Linked DNA regions of Homo sapiens. The protein of the gene in region 1 purifies or fractionates together with the protein of each later gene. This does not show direct contact. Each region holds a gene or a part of one and is shown in the gene's direction. Other genes may lie near its edges.

The links.
Region 2: the proteins of LUZP4 (region 1) and THOC2 purify together in Homo sapiens (affinity purification with mass spectrometry, with the first as the bait; one large-scale study listed by BioGRID). This does not show direct contact.
Region 3: the proteins of LUZP4 (region 1) and AIF1L purify together in Homo sapiens (affinity purification with mass spectrometry, with the first as the bait; one large-scale study listed by BioGRID). This does not show direct contact.
Region 4: the proteins of LUZP4 (region 1) and PALM2AKAP2 purify together in Homo sapiens (affinity purification with mass spectrometry, with the first as the bait; one large-scale study listed by BioGRID). This does not show direct contact.

The regions. Positions count from the first base shown.
Region 1 is NC_000023.11:115,287,557-115,293,099, forward strand, and holds the start of LUZP4 (leucine zipper protein 4), read left to right. Parts: upstream 1-2,158; 5' UTR 2,159-2,203; coding exon 2,204-2,294; intron 2,295-5,543. UniProt on the Homo sapiens protein: Export adapter involved in mRNA nuclear export in cancer cells. Binds and enhances the RNA-binding activity of the nuclear RNA export factor NXF1. Can restore mRNA export function in cells compromised by loss of mRNA export adapters.
Region 2 is NC_000023.11:123,722,311-123,726,738, reverse strand, and holds part of THOC2 (THO complex subunit 2), read left to right. Parts: intron 1-4,428. UniProt on the Homo sapiens protein: Component of the THO subcomplex of the TREX complex which is thought to couple mRNA transcription, processing and nuclear export, and which specifically associates with spliced mRNA and not with unspliced pre-mRNA.
Region 3 is NC_000009.12:131,113,345-131,117,772, forward strand, and holds part of AIF1L (allograft inflammatory factor 1-like), read left to right. Parts: intron 1-1,232; coding exon 1,233-1,274; intron 1,275-4,411; coding exon 4,412-4,428. UniProt on the Homo sapiens protein: Actin-binding protein that promotes actin bundling. May neither bind calcium nor depend on calcium for function.
Region 4 is NC_000009.12:110,136,512-110,140,939, forward strand, and holds part of PALM2AKAP2 (PALM2-AKAP2 protein isoform 3 (PALM2-AKAP2)), read left to right. Parts: coding exon 1-2,028; intron 2,029-4,428. UniProt on the Homo sapiens protein: Binds to regulatory subunit (RII) of protein kinase A. May be involved in establishing polarity in signaling systems or in integrating PKA-RII isoforms with downstream effectors to capture, amplify and focus diffuse, trans-cellular signals carried by cAMP.

The DNA.
Region 1 (5,543 bases):
AAAAAGGCCCAAACCATTAGCATAATATATTATAAAAGTCACTCCATGATCTAATATCTGTTGATCTCTTTAGACTCATCTCTCAGTACCCACCACATGGAATGAATAGAACTTTCCACAGTGTGTTAGTGGTGCTGCTTCCTCTGCCAAGAAATACCATTCCCACCCCTACAATTATTCCCTAATTTCTCAGGATTTAAATAATTTTTTCTTGATTCCTTGGGTGAATTTTCTCCTTTGAATCCCAAATACATTTTGTACATACCTGTATCCTCAGAACCTAACACAGCAGGAGCTCAGTATTTGTTGACAGACTAAATTACAGCACCTAAATTAATATTTTGCATGCATTTATTGTCTTCAGGCAATTGTATATGCATGGAGAAACAGATTTATTTATTAATCTTTAGGTCCCAGGTGCGAAGCATTTACTTAAATACAATAAATAGTTAAATAATTTACATTTTTCAAAATCTCTTCCGGCATTTATTTATGTTGTGGATTCTGTAATAGCTTGAACATATTTTTACCTTTGAAAATGTATTAATTTGATTTTTATTTCTACTGAAGAGCCAGTGACAAGATTTCTCTAATATTTTAAAGTAGCATTTGATTGAGCAGTATTAGGTGATAACAAGAACAATTACATTTTTCTTAAGAAATGTCATGGACACATCTTCAAGGTCATTGAACAGCATGTGGCAGGCCGGGTATGGTGGCTCATGCCTGTAATCCCAGCACTTTGGGAGGCCAAGGTGGGAGGATTGCTTGAGGCCAGGAGTTTGAGATCAGCTTGGCCAACATGGTGAGATCCCCATCTCTACAGCCCAAGAGGAGCCTGGGAGGTTAAGGCATGCCAACCTTGGCAACAGATCGAGGAAAGAAAGAAAAAAGAAAAGAAAGAAAAGAAAGAAAAAGAAAGGAAGGAAGGAAGGAAAAAAGGAAGGAAGGAAGCAAGGAAGCAAGGGAGAGAAGGGAAGGGAAGGGGAGGGGAGGGGAGGGGAGGGAAGGGAAGGGAATAGCCGGGTGTGGTGAGGGAGGAAGGCCGAGGCGGGTGGAAAGAGAGAAGTTAGGAAGAAGGAAGGAAGGGAGGGAGGGAGGGAGGAAGGAAGGAAGGAAAAGAAAGAGAGGAAGGAAGGAAGAAAGAGAGAGAGAAAGAAAGAAAAAAAGAAAGAAAGGGAAAAGAAAGAAAGAGAAAAAGAAAGAAAGAAAGAAAAGAAAGAGAAAGAAAAGAAAGAAAGGAAGAAAGGAAGGAAGGAAAAGAAATAACCAGGTGCGGTGAGGGAGGGATGCCAAGGCAGATGGAAAGAAAGAAGTTAGGAAGAAGAAAGAGAGGGTGGGAGGGAGGAAGGGAGGGAGGGAGGAAGGAAGGAAGGAAAGAAGGAAGGGAGGGACAGAGGGAGGGAGGGAAAGTGTGGGCGCTGTGGTATGAGGGTAGCACAGACGGGTAGATCACTTGAGCCCAGGAGACCAGCCTGGCCAACATGGTGAAACCCTATCTCTACTAAAAACACAAAAATTAGCCAGGCGTGGTGGCGCGCTCCTGTAATCTCAGCTACTTGGGAGGCTGACGTGGGAGAATCGCTTGAACCCCAGAGGCGGAGGTTGCAGTGAACGGAGTTGGCGCCACTTCACGCCAGCCTGGGTGACAAAGAGATACTGTGTCTCAAAAAAACAAAAAACAAAAAACAAAAACGAAAAGAAAGACAGAAAAGAAAGCGTGTGGCATTGCAAACCTGTGAATCCTCCCTAGATGTTAAATTTGTGCTCCCTCTTGGAATTTGAGAGAAGCAGAGCATCAGCCCATTAAGTCAAGATTATAAGGTTTTATTCGCCATGAATGTCAACAGCAAAGAGGAGAAATGGGTCCTAGGAACTGTGAAAGGCAAGGGCCGGAACACCACATACACTAGAAACTTGTAGCCAACTACATAGTGCTCTAGGTGGAGAGAATATTTTTAGAAAGGGGTATCGGGTGGGAGATGGGCGGGTCTTTCCTTTTTTTTTCTTCTAGCGAGCCAAGCTCCTGATAGGAGACTTGGTGAGGGGTAACGCCAAGCTCCACCCCTTGGGGCTTAGCAACACCGAAGGGAGAGGCTATGATTGGAGGATCAGGTTAGTCCACCACTCTGCTCCTCCTGCGCGGTGAGGGGGTGGTACACGCGCCCTACCTCGGAGTGTGTGGCGCCATGATGCAGGGAAGATGGCTTCGTTTCGGAAGCTAACGCTTTCTGAAAAAGTGCCGCCAAATCATCCCAGTCGGAAAAAGGTTAACTTCCTAGATATGTCTCTAGGTATGTAGATCTCGGATCCCAGTCTCCACTAGTTTGGGCTCACTGGTCTTGAGCGCAAGACCTCGGCATAGCGCTTACTAGAAGTGGCGTCGGGAGGAACACACCAGTTCGAGGAGAGGCTTCCCCTTCAGGGCATCTCCGCACCTGCCCCACCCTGACGAACCCTGGGACCACTTGGCCCCTATCCCTCCTCTCCTCTTTTTCTCCTCACCTCCAGCCCTCTCCTTTCAGGTGGGGAACTGAGGGAGGCTGACCAGAAGCGCGTGGGGATTAAGGATTGCTGAAAGGGGCAGGCGGAGAAAATAGACCGCTATTAACGTGTATTTTACTCTCCTAAGAATTGATACCTAACTACTGGCCTCCTTCAAACACATGGAGCCAAGTGCTCTTCTCAGTCCAAGCGGATGTCATAAATCACTAGATTCCAGGGCCCGGAGGAGCAAGCCTTAGGCTATTTTACTAGGGATCCCGGCGTGGTAGTGCTAGGAGTTGTTGGTGGGTTGGTGTATCTGCTTTGTTGGCTGGTGGTTATTCGAAGGGGTGGTTGGTCCATTTATTTGCTTGTTGGCTGGTGGTTATTCGCTCTGGATAGCCTTTCTTTGCTGGCGCTCTCTAGTCTCTAACCTGAGACCTCTACACGGAGAGTGGAACCTTAGAAAAAAGAACTCCTTTATCAAGGCCCCTAACCTCCTCCATTCGCACCAAACCCAGAAAAAGTGGATTTTACTTGGACCAGTTCCTCTGCTATTATCCATCTTAGAAATGGGGGAGGAGGGGAGGGAATAGACTTTCCAAGCCAGATAGGGAGTGAGCAGAGCTGAGTAGAGAGGATGGAAGCTGACTTTAGAAATGGAGAAGGGCATCAGAGCACGGAAGAAGGAAACTGTAGAAATGGGGGAAGGAGGACAAAACAGAAAAGGGCTACTTTAGTTAGGGGTGTGTGTGTGTGTGTGAAACGTGCTTGCTCTGTTTCTCAGGCAGGTGTGCAGTGGCATCATCTTGGCTCAGTGCAGCCTCCGCCCCCTGGGGTCAAGCGATCCTCCCACCTCAGTCGACAGAGTAGCTGGGACTACAGGCACGCGCCACCACACCTGTCTAGGTTTTTGTTTTTTTGTTTTGTTTTGTTTTGTTTTTTAGTAGAGCGAGGTTTCACCATGTTGCCCAGACTGGTCTCCTGGTCTCAAGTGATCCGCCCTTCTCGGCCTCCCAAAGTCCTGGGATTACAGGCATAAGCCACCGCCCCCGGCCTAGTTAGTTATTTTTGAGATAAGGTCAGGGACTGTTGTCTGGGTTGGAGTGTAGTGGCACGATCACGGCTCACTGTGGCCTCAAGCTCTCAGGCTCAATCAAGTGATCCTACCACCTCAGCCTCTCGAGTAGCTGGAACCACAGGTGCTCACTACCATGCCCACCTAATTTTTAAATTTTTGTAGAGATTGGGTCTCCTTATGTTGCCCAGGCTGGTCTCGAACTCCTGGCCTCAAGCAATCCTCCCGGCTCGGCCTCCCAAAATGATGGGATTGTGGGCCTGAGCCACTGCGCCTGGCCAAGGGCCACTTTAGAAATGAGAGGGGGAGAGGCAGAGCAGTGGGAGCTGAGCTTCAATGTGGAAGCGCAGGAGTGGAGCAAGGAGAAGCAGGAACAAGGAGGGTGGACCTCAGAAATTGATGGAGCAGTGGAAAGAGGGTTCACCTTAGAGATGAGGGTAGGGGAGCAGAGCAGGGAGGGCTGAACTTTAAAAGGGGCAGGATAAGTGGAGGGAGAGTGTACCATAGAAATGAAGAGGGTCAGCTGGGCTTGGTGGCTCATTCATGTAATCCCAGCACTTTGGGAGGTTGAGGTGGGTGGCTCACTTGAGGCCAGGAGTTCGAGACCAGCCTGGCCAACATGGTGAAACCCCATCTCTACTAAAAATACAAAGATTAGCTGGGCATGGTGTTGCGTGCCTGTAGTCCCAGCTATGCAGGAGGCTGAGGCAGGAGAATTGCTTGAACCTGGGAGATGGAGGCTGCAGTGAGTTGAGATCGCCCCACTGCACTCCAGCCTGGGTGCCAGAGTGAGACTTCATCTCAGAAAAAAAAAAAAGTAATGAAATGAAGAGGGGCGCCATGGCTCATGCCTGTAATCCCAGGAGGCAGAGGTCAGGCTGGTCTTGGAACTCCTGACCTCAAGTGATACACCCACCTCGGCCTCACACAGTGCTGCGATTACAGGCGTGGGCCACCTCACCCGGCCTAAACTTTCTTTATAGTGTCCTTTGAAGTCCCGAAGTTTCAGAATTTGATAAAATACAATTTATCTGTTTTTTGTTGTTGTTCATGCTTTGGTGTCAAATCTAGAAGATCATGAAGATCATACCCTTGTTTCCTTCTGAGAGTTTTCTAGTTTTAACTCTTAAATTTACATCTGTGATCCATTTTGAGTTAATTCTTGTATATGGGGTGAGTTAAGAGCCAACTTCATTCTGTTGCATTTTGATGTCTAATTGTTCCAACACTACTTGTTAAAAAGACTAATTTTCCTCCATTGAAAGCTCTTCTTGGTGGAATTGCTTTCTTAATTTCGTTTTTGGATAGTTCATTGCTGGTATATGTACATAGAATTAATTTTTGCATATAGATCTTGTATCCTGCAGCCTTGCTGAGTGTGTTCATTAGTGCTAATCTCCGTGTGTGTGTGTGTATCTTTAGGAATTTCTGCATACAAGATCATGATATCTGAGAACAGAGATTTACTTTTTTCTAATCTGCTTGCCTTTCATTCTTTTTCTTGACTAATTGCTCTGGATGGAATTTCTAGCAAAATGTTAATTAGATGCGGTGAGATTGGACATCCTTGACTTGTTTCTGATCTTAGGGAGAAAAGCTTTCAGTTTTTCACCATTAATCATCATTTTACCTTTGGTTGGGTTTTTGTAGATGCCCTTATGAGGTTGAGGAATTTACCTGCCTCCCACTTTACTTCTGAGGGGGAATGGCCCTGAAAAGTAACTAAGTATTTTTTGTTGTTGTTGTCTTTAAGATGTTTTTAGCAATCTATTTTAAGATCGGTATCAATTTCCTCTTCTAAGACATGGTCCCTGTTGATCCCATACTGCTACTTCCCCCTACCCCAACTTCATCACAAGTTCTGAAATATTTTGTGGCATTAAAATGACTTTAAAAATAATATTTGGTCACTGGCCAGGGCTGGGACTAGGGTGAGGTAAATGAGGCACTTGCTTCCAGTATAAAGTTCAAGGAGTCACAA
Region 2 (4,428 bases), 8.4 Mb from region 1:
CTGACAATATAGAATTATATTTCAATTATTTCTTAAAGTTATGTAATGATGACTGTACCATTAGTCTAGGTAGGAGTTTGCAACACTGATGCAACCTCTTCCCCGCAACCATTGGAAGGCTTTTTGCAAAAGACATGCATTAAGATTGTTAAATAGAAATGAAACTATTGAAAATGTGAGGAAGCAAGTGCATTGTTATAAGGAGAAGTTTTTTTTTTTTTTTTTTGAGACAGGGTCTCACTCTGTTGCCCAGGCTGGAGTGCAGTGGCACGATCTTGGCTCACTGCAGCCTTGACCTCCTGGGCTCAAGTGAATAAGGAGGAATTTTAAACAATTATTTTATTTCTCTTTCTTTCTCATCCTTTCCTTTTCCTTTCCTCTTTTTCTTTTTTCTCTTTTTCTATATGAAGGAATATTTGAAATTGCATTTTAGTAGCCCGAGTACAAAGGGAAAGATGAGTTACTTTATTCTGTTAAATTCTTCTTTCAAAGACATGGTGCTTCCTGCTATTATTATTATTATTTTTTTTGAGACAGAGTCTCACTCTGTCGCCCAGGCTGGAGTGCAGTGGTGCGATCTCGACCCACTACAACCTCCGCTTCCTGGGTTCAGGTGATTCTCCTGCCTCAGCTTCCTGAGTAGCTGGGATTACAGGCATTGGCCACCAAGCCCGGCTAATTTTTGTAGTTTTAGTAGAGACGGGGTTTCACCATATTGGCTAGGCTAGTCTCAAACTCTTGACCTCAAGTAATCTGCCCTCCTCGGCCTCTTAAAAGTGCTGGGATTATAGGTGTGAGCCACGGTGCCTGGCCCCTGCTATTATATTCTAAAGAGAATTGACCCTATAAGGGAAATGAGAACCCAAAGAGGGAATTGTTTTAATACTTCATAGTAAATATTGAAGCAACCTTGATATACTTATATATCTCCTCTCCACAAAAGACCTAGATGGCATTTTTAGGTTATATCTTCTGATGCTAGTCTGAAGCAGATGTTATTTCTGTGTTGCCTGGTGGAAGGAAGATTGATTTTGTTTTATATTCCAGATAAACTTATGTTAGGTTTAACGTATTTTGTGAAATTAGAAGCTTAATCGTGGTTTTTTTTTTTTTTTTTTTTTTGAGATAGGGTCTCACTCTGTTCCCCAGGCTGCCCAGGCTGGAGTGCAGTGGTACTACGATCACCACTCACTGCAGCCTCGACCTGCAGGCTCAAGTGATCCTCCCAGCTCAACCTCCCAAGTAGCTGGGATTATAGGCATGTGCCACCACACTTGGCTACTTTTTTTTTCTATTTTTTTTTTTTTTTTGTAGAGATGGGGTCTCACTTGTTGGCTAGGCTGGCTAGGCTGGTCTTGTACTCCTGTGCTCAAGTGATCCTCCCACTTCGGCCTCCCAAAGTGTTGGGATTACAGGCATGAGCCAGCATATCCAACTTTAACCAGTGTTCTTAACCAACCACTGTTCTCTTCTCAACCCATTAGAAGGCCTGTCTAGTTCTCCAGGGAAGTAGTTGAAAGTACTTGGGATCAAACTTAAACCAGCTTACCATTTGTAAGGTACTCTCAGAATAATTTTTTTAGTGAGAAATGTTTAATAGCTAAATGACATTTTCTTTCTTTGTTTTTGTTTTTGAGATGGGATCTTGCTCTGTCACCCTGGAGTGCAGGCTGGAGTGCAGTGGTGCGATCATGGCTCACTGGTGTGATCTTGGCTCACTGCAGTCTCAACTTCCTGGGCTCTGGCGATCCTCCCACCTCAGCCTCCTGAGTAGCTGGGCCCACAGGCGCGTGCTACCATGCTCTGCTAATTGTTTGTGTTTTTGGTAGAGACAGGGTTTCACCACGTTACGAGGCTGGTCTTGAACTCCTGAGCTCAGGTGATATTACCAGGCTGGTCTCGAACTCCTGAGCTCAAGTGATTCACCCACCTTGGCCTCCCAAAGTGCTGGGATTACAGACGTGAGCTACTATGCCTGGCCTGACATTTTCAAACTAAATATTTAATTTAGTAGATGCTCTCCATTGCCCTTATTTTTTATTTTTATTTTTTCTGAGACAGAGTCTCGCTCTGTTGCCCAGGTTGGAGTGCGGTGATGCAGTCTTGGCTCACTGCAACCTCTGCCTCCTGGGTTCATGCGATTCTCCTGCCTCAGCCTGTAGAGTAGCTGGGATTACAGGTGCGCACCACTGCGTCCAGCTAATTTTTGTATTTTTAGTGGAGACGAGGTTTCATCATGTTGGCCAGGCTGGTCTCAAACTCTTGACCTCAACTGATCCACCCACCTTAGCCTCCCAGAGTTCTGGGACTACAGGTGTGAGCTACAGTGCCCGGCTTCCATTGCCTTTTTATTTTTTGGTTTTGAACATATTTGTGAAACCTAGAAGTGAATTGTTGACCAGCAAAAGTTTACTCTGTTGACTTTTAATAACCTTACCCTGCTCATCCTGATGATAGGGTATTGACATAATCAGAAGGCACAGAGGTGAGCTGCAAGGTTATGTATAATCTGCAAAGTAGATAATCTCTCTGTGGATGATTGTAATCTGGCATCTTATTTAGCCTTAGATGTGATATATAAGCAGGTTCTGTAAGTCTTAAAATTATTTGTTTCATTGACTAGAAAAAGGATTACTAGATATAAAAGAGTAAGAAACTCTTCTATATGAATTCATTGGCTCTCTTTAAAGCCTTGTGCAACATGGAAGAATTTTTTTCTAAATTGTGAAATGTAATGAAAATACAGAGAAGTCATGAAACCTCAATATAGAGCTTAAAATAATCACTGTAAGATGCACCCCCATGTAACTTACACCCAGGTCAAGGCAACATACTGTTTGTTCCCGATCAAACCTTTCCCACCTCTCATGTAGTAAACATTATCCTGACATTTATGGTTTTCCTCTTGATTTTTCTCTTTTTTTAACCTTGCATCTTCAACTCAAAGAAACTTTCTTGATTTTCTTTGCAGTGTCATTACCCAATATGTTTAATTTTTTTCTTGAACTTCATATAAATGAAATCATTGAATATTTATCCTACTGTTTCTGGCTGCTTTTGTTCAACAGTTATGACTTTTAAGATTCATCCATATTGTATGTTTGCAGTTCATTGATTTTCCTTTTTTTTTTAGTTCATTCATTTTCATAGTTGCAAGATACTCCATCGTATACCAGTATTTGTTTATTTTTATGCTGTCTTGTTAAACATTTTTGTTGCGTCTAGTTTTTGGCTATTACTAACAGTGCCAATAGAAACATTATTATACAACAGTTTTGGTGTATACAAGCATGTGTTTTTGTGGAGTATATACTAGGTGTAGAATCTCTGGGTTATAGGTTACACTTTAGCTCTGTTAGATATTGCCAGGCTATTTCAGTGTACACTCCCACCAGCAGTGTATGAGTTGACCTTGTTTCACATTGTCACTATGTTTGATATTGTCAGACTTAAATTTTTTGTAAATATGTATGTAATTTTACTGTGGCTTATATTTCCATGAGCATCTTTTTATATGTTATTGGTCATTTGGAGTACTTCTTTTTTTTTGTTTGTTTGAGACAGAGTCTTGCTCTGTCGCCTAGTTTGGAGTGCGGTGGTGGCGTGATCTTGGCTCACTGCAACCTCTGCCTCCCGAGTTCAAGCGATTCTTGTGCCTCAGCCTCCTGAGTAGCTGGGATTACAGGTGTGTGCCACCACACCTGGCTAATTTTTGTGTTTTTAGTAGAGACAGGGTTTCACCATGTTGGGCAGGCTGGTCTTGAACTCCGGACCTCCGATGATCCGCCCGCCTTGGCCTCCCAAAGTGCTGGGATTACAGACGTGAGCCACCACGCCTGTACTGGAGTTCTTATTTCTTTTTGTGAAAGGTCTCTGTCATATCTTTTGCCTTTTTTGTTATTGAGTTGCTTGAGTTTCTTTCACTGATTTGTAGGGGTTCTTTATATAGTCTGTATTTGAGCCCTTTTTGGGTTACACTGCATGTGTTACAACTGTCATTTTTTTTTAATTTTAAGTTCTGGGATACATGTGCAGAATGTGCAGGTTTGTTACATAGGCATACATTTGCCATGGTGGTTTGCTGCACCTATCAACCTGTCATCTAAGTTTTAAGCCCCACGTGCATTAGGTATGTGTCCTAATGCTCTCCCTCCCCTTGCTCCCCAACCCCCAACAGGCACCAGTGTGTGATGTTCCTGTCCCTGTGTCCATGTGTTCTCATTGTTCAGCTCTCACTTATGAGTGAGAACATGTGGTGTTTGGTTTTTTTGTTCCTGTGTTAGTTTGCTGAGAATGATGGTTTCCAGCTTCATCCATGTCCCTGCAAAGGACATGAACTCATCCTTTTTTATGGTTGCATAGTATTCCATGGTATATATGTGCCACATTTTCTTTATCCAGTCTATCATTGATGGGCATTTGGGTTGG
Region 3 (4,428 bases), on another chromosome or scaffold:
AAAATTAGCTGTATGTGGTGGTGGGTGCCTGTAATGCCAGCTACTCGGGAGGCTGAGACAGGAGGATTGCTTGAACCCAGGAGGCAGAGGTTGCAGTGAGCTGAGATCAAGCCACTGCACTCAAGCCTTGGTGACAGAATGAGACTCCATCTCAAAAAAAAAAAAAAAAAAAAAAAGCATAATGGTTAAGAACGGGGGCTTTGGAGCCAGACTAACATGGGTTCAAGTCCCAACTCTGCCCTAGGTGAGCTGTGTATCCCCCCTGAGATCACGCCACTACACTTCAGCTTGTGTGACAAAGTGAGATGGAGCAAGACTCCTTCTAAAAAAAAGAAGAAAAAGAAAGGGTGGGGAGCCCTGAAGCCATGAGGAAGGGTGCTGAGAATACTTGGGAGAACATTCCAGGCAGAGGGGCAGCGAGCTGGAGCAGGCAGGGAGTGGGCGGGGGCAGCACAGCCTGCAGGAGGGCCTCGGCTTTCTCTGCTGGCTGCTTGTGGGGCAGGATGGACCATGAGGGCCCCACTCTGCCCGGGCAGGGGGTGACCTGCAGAGGCCCCACGGTCCGTTTGACACACTGCTCCCATCTGAACATACCAAGCCCACTGCTCCGACATCCTCCCTCACTGCTAGAAGTTTTCCTGGACTCCTTGATCAGGGAAGTATAACTCAGTCTGTGTGTGAGGTTTGGGGTGATGGTCTGTGTACCCCGGGAAACTGTATGTCCACTTTGTGGGCTAGGGCAGGCCTTTTTCCTGGTTTCAGAATCACAGGTCCCCTGAATCAGTGGTTCCCACACCCGGTTGCCCATCAGAACTGCCTGGGACGCTAAAAAGCACACCCATGCCTGCCCCCACCCTGTCCTTCCACACCCATGAGCCAGAATCCTGGGGCAGGGAATCAGAGCTAGTCACTTTGCTACTAACTCAGATGCAGCTGGTCTGTGCTGCTGGGGACCCGGGAGAAAGCAGCTGCCCTCCTGGTAAGAGGGTCAGAGTGGCCCCCAGCCATCTTTCCCTCGTGGCACCTCTAGGAGAGTAGTCCAGGCAGGATGAGCTCTTTCCCCAGAGGCCATGGCTCAGCGGATGGGGGACTCAGGTCAAGACCCTTGGTAGGGTGCGGGAGGTGGTTCAGACTCCTGAGGACACGGTCATTTGCCCACAAGGGAGCCACTGGGTCCCCACAGGGAGACGCTGCTTCCAAACTAATGCTAGTTTTTGCTCTGTGATTTCCAGAGAAGTACATGGAGTTTGACCTGAACAATGAAGGCGAGATTGGTGAGTGAAGCCTTGAGTGTGTTTAGGGAGGAGGGTGTTAAGTGGGTAGAGGGCTTGAGGGACCCTCTGTGCGGGTGAGGGGCATGGGGCAGTCCGGAAGGCTGGTGAATATGTTGCGCCGAGCCAGCCCCAGCCCCTTGCCTTCTGCCCTGGCACCACTGCCCTCAGACTCCTCCAGACCCTTTGATCCCCTACTGCTTCCCTCCCCACCCACACCTCAGCCTCCCACCCCAGGTGCTACGGGGACTCAGGACAGAGGGTGCCACACCTGCCCAGGGCTGGAGACACTCAGGGTGGACAGGCCCTGGGCCTCCTGGCTGGCATTTCAGTGGCCCTGAAGTCTGTCTTTCCATTGTATGTCATTCGGCAGTTGACAAGTTGCTTTTATATACGTTGATTCTCTCCTTATTGCATCCTGCTGTGCAGCTACTGGCACTTACGTTCTGGTAGGAGACCATACCTGGACCTCACCCGCAAAGAAGTGGTTAAGGCTGGTTTAATTATCCCCATTTTACAGATGAGGAAAGCAAGACTCAGAAAGGTGAAATGGGCCGGGCGCCATGGCTCAAGCCTGTAATCCCAGCACTTTGGGAGGCCAAGGCGTGGGGATCACCTGAGGTCAGGAGTTCAAGACCAGCCTGGCCAACATGACGAAATCCCATCTCTACTAAAAATACAAAAATTAGCTGGGTGTGGTGGCGGGTGCCTGTAATCCCAGCTACTCGGGAGGCTGAGGCAGGAGAACTGCTTGAACCCAGGAGGCGGAGGTTGCAGTGAGCCAAGATTGTGCCACTGCACTCCAGCCTGGGTGACAGAGCGAGATTCTGTCTCAAAAAAAAAAAAAAAAAAAAAAAAAGCAAAAAGAAAGGTGAAATGACTTGCTTACATGGAACACTGGCAGTGAACCAGGGCCCAGCCGTTGGTTTCTGAACAGTTTCCCCCTTTTCCATTTCATCCTGCGTCTCAGATTGATGCTGCTACCGGCATTTCTACTCCTCTTCCTCTGTCCTCTCTCTTTTCTTCTCCCTTTAGAATATTTTGATCATTTTTTTTTTTCTTTAGAAAGAAAATTTGGCCAGGCACAGTGTCTCACGCCTGTAATCCCAGCACTTTGGGAGGCCAAGGCGGGCGGATCACATGAGATCAGGAGTTCGAGACCAGCCTGGGCAACATGGTGAAACCCCATCTTTACTAAAAATGCAAAAATTAGCCGGGCATGGTGGCAGATGCCTGTAATCCCAGCTACTCGGGAGGCTGAGGCAGGAGAATTGCTTTAACCCAGGAGGTGGAGGTTGCAGTGAGCCCAGATTGCACCATTGCACTCCAGCCTAGGGGACAAGAGCAAGACTTCGTCTCAAAAAAAAAAAAAAAAAATTTGGCTTATCAAATAAACACATTTTCATCATTAAAAAAATTGGGGAAACACAGCAAGACAAAAAGACAAAAATGCATCACCCACAACCCCACCTCCCAGAAGTAACTGCTACAAACATTTCCGTTTCTAGCCTTCCACTCTTTATTCTAATCACAAAAGCTGTTTTATATCATTTTTGAGCCTCCTTGAAAAAAATAACTTTCTATTGGTCAGCCCGGCCAGAAAAAATAAGTGAAATAAAACAATGGTGAGTATTTTGATTTATTATTGATTTTTCTTTCTTTTTTTGAGACATAGTCTCATTCTGTTGCCCAGGCTGGAGTGCAGTGGCACAATCTTGGCTCACTGCATCCTCAGCCTCCCAGGTTCAAGCGGTTCTCCTGCCTCAGCCTCCCAAGTAGCTGAGATTACAGGCACGCACCACCACGCCCGGCTAATTTTCGTATTTTTAGTAGAGACGAGGTTTCACCATGTTGGCCAGGCTGGACTCAAACTCCTGGCCTCAAGTGATCCGCCTGCCTCGTCGTCCCAAAGTGCTGGGATTACAGGCATGAGCCATGGCGCCAGCTGATTTTTCTTTTGAAATATAGTTAATGGCTGCATTGTAGGAATGGATTCTAATTTGTTTAGCCGATGCCTTTGTGTGGACCATTTGGATGCCTTCCAATTTTAACTATTATTGATAATCCTGTAAAGAACCTCTTTGTACATGAGTGCTTGTTCACCTCCCTGGTTATTTCTGTAGAGGAAATCTCAGGAAGGGGACACTGGGTCAAAGGCTTTTGAAGCATCTTGCCGAACTGCCCGAGAAAGGTCCTGCCAACTTCAGAGTCTGGCAGTGCGTGTGCAGCCCTTTCCCCCTTTCCTGGAGAAGGCTGCCCAGCTCTCTCTGAATGCGTGGACATCCTGGCACCTTTGGGCCTGGCCCCAGTCCCGCCCGCCTTGCCAGGAGGAGCATTGGCTGCGCCACGGCCCATGGCCCCTACCCCAGCCCTCTCCTGCCATCCTTAGATGACCCATTGTTCACTGGAGAACAATCCAAAGGAAATTGCCTCAGATCTTGGTGGGAGCTGGGCGGTCAGAGACAGCACCGCCTCGGGCTGGAGTGACATTCTGGGGCCTCCCTTGTTTTTCTTGAATTTTGTTCTTTTGTTGGTTTTCCTGCTCTGTGGGATATTTTTGGCATCCTCTCCCTTCCAGCCGGGGCAGAGCCCTAGGACAGCAGGACAGGAGTGGCACGTGGGGAGAAGCCACCTGCCACTCGGCACCCAGCAGAGTTACTTTCAATGCCTGACTTCCTGACCCTGCCACACTGGGCATAACTCCCCAGGCAGCAGGAGAGTGGGCACCCAGCCCACCCTAACTGCAGGAAATAGCAGAGCCCACAGTCATGGTGTGAAGAAAGTGCTCTGGGCCGGTGCTTCCTGCACAGAGATCCCTGAATGATCCCATCCACCCGTTCCACCGTTGGTGGGAGCAGGGGTTCAGAGAGGTTAAGTAGTGTGCCCCAGATCCCAGAGCCAGGAATAGCAGAGCTCGATTCCAATGCAAGCCCGTCTGACTCTAGAAGCCCAGGTCACTAACCACTAGCCTATACGGCCTCCAAAGAGAGCAGGGAGGGCGTGATGGGCTCCTCCTCCCTAGAGAAGGAGTGCAGACGCCAAGTTTCTAGGCGTGGGGTGCCTGAGTGGAGCTTTCCCAGCTTCCCTGCTAAGCCCCAGCAGCCCATCTCCACTTAACAGATCTGCTTTTCCCCCGGCAGACCTGATGTCTTTAAAG
Region 4 (4,428 bases), on another chromosome or scaffold:
CCCCTGTCCACGAGGCGACCCAGCCAGAACCCACTGAAAGAACAGCTAGCCGGCAGGCACCTCCTCACATCGAGCTCAGTAATAGCAGCCCTGACCCCATGGCAGAGGCAGAAAGAACAAATGGCCATTCCCCCAGCCAGCCTAGAGATGCGCTGGGGGACAGCCTGCAGGTGCCTGTCAGCCCCAGCTCCACAACCAGCTCACGGTGTTCTTCCCGAGATGGAGAGTTCACTCTCACCACACTGAAAAAGGAGGCCAAGTTTGAGCTGCGTGCCTTCCATGAGGACAAGAAGCCCTCCAAGCTCTTTGAGGATGACGAGCATGAGAAAGAACAATACTGCATTAGAAAAGTGAGGCCTTCAGAGGAGATGCTGGAGCTGGAAAAGGAGAGGAGAGAGCTCATCCGCAGCCAGGCCGTCAAGAAGAATCCTGGCATTGCAGCAAAATGGTGGAATCCCCCGCAGGAAAAAACCATCGAGGAGCAGCTGGACGAGGAACATCTGGAGTCGCACAAAAAGTACAAGGAGCGCAAAGAGAGAAGGGCACAGCAGGAACAGTTGCTGCTGCAGAAGCAGTTACAGCAGCAGCAGCAGCAGCCCCCATCGCAGCTCTGCACAGCCCCTGCCTCTTCTCATGAACGCGCAAGCATGATTGACAAAGCAAAGGAGGACATTGTCACAGAGCAGATAGATTTCTCTGCTGCTCGCAAACAATTTCAGCTGATGGAGAATTCCAGGCAAGCGGTGGCCAAGGGCCAGAGTACACCCAGGCTGTTCTCCATCAAGCCTTTCTACAGGCCTCTGGGGTCAGTCAACTCAGACAAGCCACTGACTAATCCGAGACCACCTTCTGTCGGGGGACCTCCAGAAGACAGTGGTGCCTCAGCCGCCAAGGGACAGAAATCCCCCGGTGCCCTGGAGACCCCATCGGCAGCAGGAAGCCAGGGCAACACAGCCTCTCAGGGGAAGGAAGGGCCCTACAGCGAGCCTTCTAAACGTGGGCCCTTATCTAAACTGTGGGCTGAGGATGGAGAATTTACGAGCGCCCGGGCTGTCCTCACTGTGGTCAAGGATGATGACCATGGGATTTTGGATCAGTTCTCAAGATCTGTCAATGTCTCCTTGACCCAAGAGGAGCTTGACTCTGGTCTGGACGAATTGTCGGTGAGGTCTCAGGATACCACAGTCCTGGAGACCCTATCCAATGATTTCAGCATGGACAACATCAGTGACAGCGGGGCATCCAATGAGACAACCAATGCCCTCCAGGAAAATTCACTGGCTGATTTTTCTCTGCCCCAGACACCACAAACTGACAACCCCTCAGAGGGCCGAGGAGAAGGCGTCTCCAAGTCATTTAGTGATCATGGTTTCTATTCCCCTTCCTCCACGCTGGGGGACTCTCCGTTGGTTGATGACCCCTTGGAGTATCAGGCTGGCCTCCTGGTGCAGAATGCCATTCAACAAGCCATAGCCGAGCAGGTGGATAAAGCTGTGTCCAAAACCAGCAGGGATGGAGCAGAGCAACAGGGACCTGAAGCGACTGTAGAGGAAGCTGAAGCTGCGGCTTTCGGCTCAGAAAAGCCTCAGAGCATGTTTGAGCCACCTCAGGTGTCTTCTCCTGTTCAAGAGAAAAGGGATGTATTACCAAAGATTCTGCCTGCTGAAGACAGGGCGCTCAGGGAAAGGGGGCCCCCCCAGCCACTGCCAGCTGTGCAGCCCAGTGGCCCGATTAACATGGAGGAGACCAGGCCCGAAGGAAGCTATTTCAGCAAGTACTCGGAGGCAGCTGAGCTGAGAAGCACAGCCTCCCTCCTGGCCACTCAAGAATCTGACGTGATGGTTGGGCCTTTCAAGCTGAGGTCCAGGAAACAGCGGACTTTGTCCATGATTGAGGAAGAGATCCGAGCAGCTCAGGAAAGGGAAGAGGAGCTGAAGAGGCAGAGACAAGTCTTGCAGAGTACGCAGAGCCCCAGGACAAAGAATGCCCCATCACTGCCCTCCAGAACATGCTACAAAACTGCTCCAGGTAAGTGAGGTGCCTCACATGAGAGACAGATGCCACAGCAGTCTGTTGTTGTTGATTCCAGCTCATGGGTTTCTATGTGGAGCCTCCTCTGTGTGTGTCTGGAATAAGTGTTGGGGGGACACTGGCATGAGAATTCCAGCATACAGGGACATGCAACAAAAGTGTCAAGAGTGTCCTCTAGAAGAACCCTGAGCTTGCATGGAGTTTGCCACTTTCCAGAGGATGCAATAGCTCCTTCTTTGTTGTTCTGCTTTGGCCTTGGTTTATTATAAAGAATTGTTCTCTTTTACTTGAAAGCCTGCCTCTTGTCTGAAGGAGAGGCTGTTTGTGGCATAGAACCAGAGTGGACCCATGTGTGGACTATGTTGGAATCAGTAGCTTGACCCTCAGTATCTAGTTAAACCCATCTGATTTGGGAGTTGTCCTCTACTAACTAACCCCTTCTGAATGCTGGTTTCCTTCCCAGCAATGATAGTCATGGCATGGCATTGCAGACTGGTCCATGCAAAATGCTTTTGTTCATCTTCCGTGTAACTGGGTTTTTCTTCTTAAGTCACCACAAAGCAACTACTTTGGAATCAGGAGTGGACGCATCTGTTCTTGTCATGTGACCCATTTGGAAAAGTTGAATTACTCTTCACAAAGGCAGGTCTTTAATCCCTTCATATTGCCTGGGTGGTCCCTTTTTTGAATACTTTGTATAGATGGTTGATGTTAATTAGAGTGCTAATTATTATTGCTACCATATGGATAACAGTGTGACCAGTTGTTTTTATTTTCCATGTGAATGTGATAGCAATCAGGGATCCACAGATCTTCAGCTATGGAAAACGCTGCTCAAAGCGTGGTCCAAGCTAGTCCAGGAATCATTTGCTACTGGTTCATTCTAAGTTCAGACATCGAGAGTAAGCATTTGAAAACTCCTATTGCAATGTGATATTGTCCTGAAATCCAAGCGTGGGATTTTTGTATTTTACAAAACTATTGCTTCATAATGGACTGGTGGGGAAAAACTGATGCTTCACCAGAGAAAATTTAAGAATCGTTACCCTAAAGGATAATTGTTGACACTTATCTTGGTCCATCCATATCTTAATCTTATCTTGACACTTGGCTTCCATCAAACCTACAATGACTCAAGGTCACTCTTCTCATTAACTTTTTAAAATTGGAAAGAATCTCCAACCTAAAGAAAAGTTCCCAAGTACAGTACAAATGTCTTTCTGTTTTGAATCATTTGAGAGTAAATTGCCAACATGATGCCCCATCACCCCCAATTTTGTAGACTGCTCCCTAATGTGGGTCTCTGATGTTTTCATATGATGATTTTCAGGTTGTGCATCTTTGGTAGGAATACCACCAAATTGATGCTGTGTTCTCACTGTATCCAAACAGGTAGCACGTGGTATTAGTTTGTCCCATTATGGTGACAGGTGTCAACTCTGATCACTTAATATTGATTATGATCACTCCATTGAGGGAGTGTCTGCCAGCCTTCTGCACAGTAGTTACTTTTTTCTTTTGTAATTAATATACATTTTGTAGGGCAATACTGTGGTATTCTGCAATTTTCACCCCATTTCTTATCAAACTTCATTTATTTATGTCGGTATGATCTCATGGATTCCTGTGATATTCAATGGATTCCTGTGATATTCAATGGATTATAATCCATTTCTTTTATTATTTTTATCCGCAACTTGTTCAGTTACAGCTCACGGGAGCCCTTTCTGGCTAACTTGTATGTCCTTTGGAGATGTCCCCGTTTTCCTTTGAATGCTTCCTCAATTTCTGGCATCGCAAGATATTCCAGTTTCATCTTATACTTTCCCAACCCTGAAATCGGTCGTCTCTCTGAAGAGCACTAGTTTCTGATGATGGAGAATGGTATTTAGAAACAAAGATCTGAGTGCTAGCTGTGCTCATTGTTATTGCATTGTCACTAGCCCCAGGCACTCTCAGTGGACAGAATTAGAAATTACACACATCTCTCTTGAAAACCATGAGTTTGCCCTGATGCTTTTTAATTCTTATTTAATAAAAAGTTCATTCATACTTTCTCCCTTTCCATATTTGTGACCACCTTCTTGACAAAAGATACTTAGTTTTTATTATCTGTAATATGTTTATTATTTAACTAGCCCTCCTTCCCCCACACTCCAGTATAACCAGTCTCCTGTTTTCCTCACCAAACTTGGGCTCCGACATCATTTTCCAGGTGGCCACTGCCACGACCCTTCACCAACACCCTCCTTACCCTCCCTGGGCTCCAACACTACAGCAGGTACCATCTTATTCAGCCTGGCCTAGTGACTTTTGGACTGAGTTGTTTGGGAAGGAAAGGAAAGGGAGGAAGAAGAGGAAGAGTGCAGTGACTTTCTTAATATATGCCATCAAATT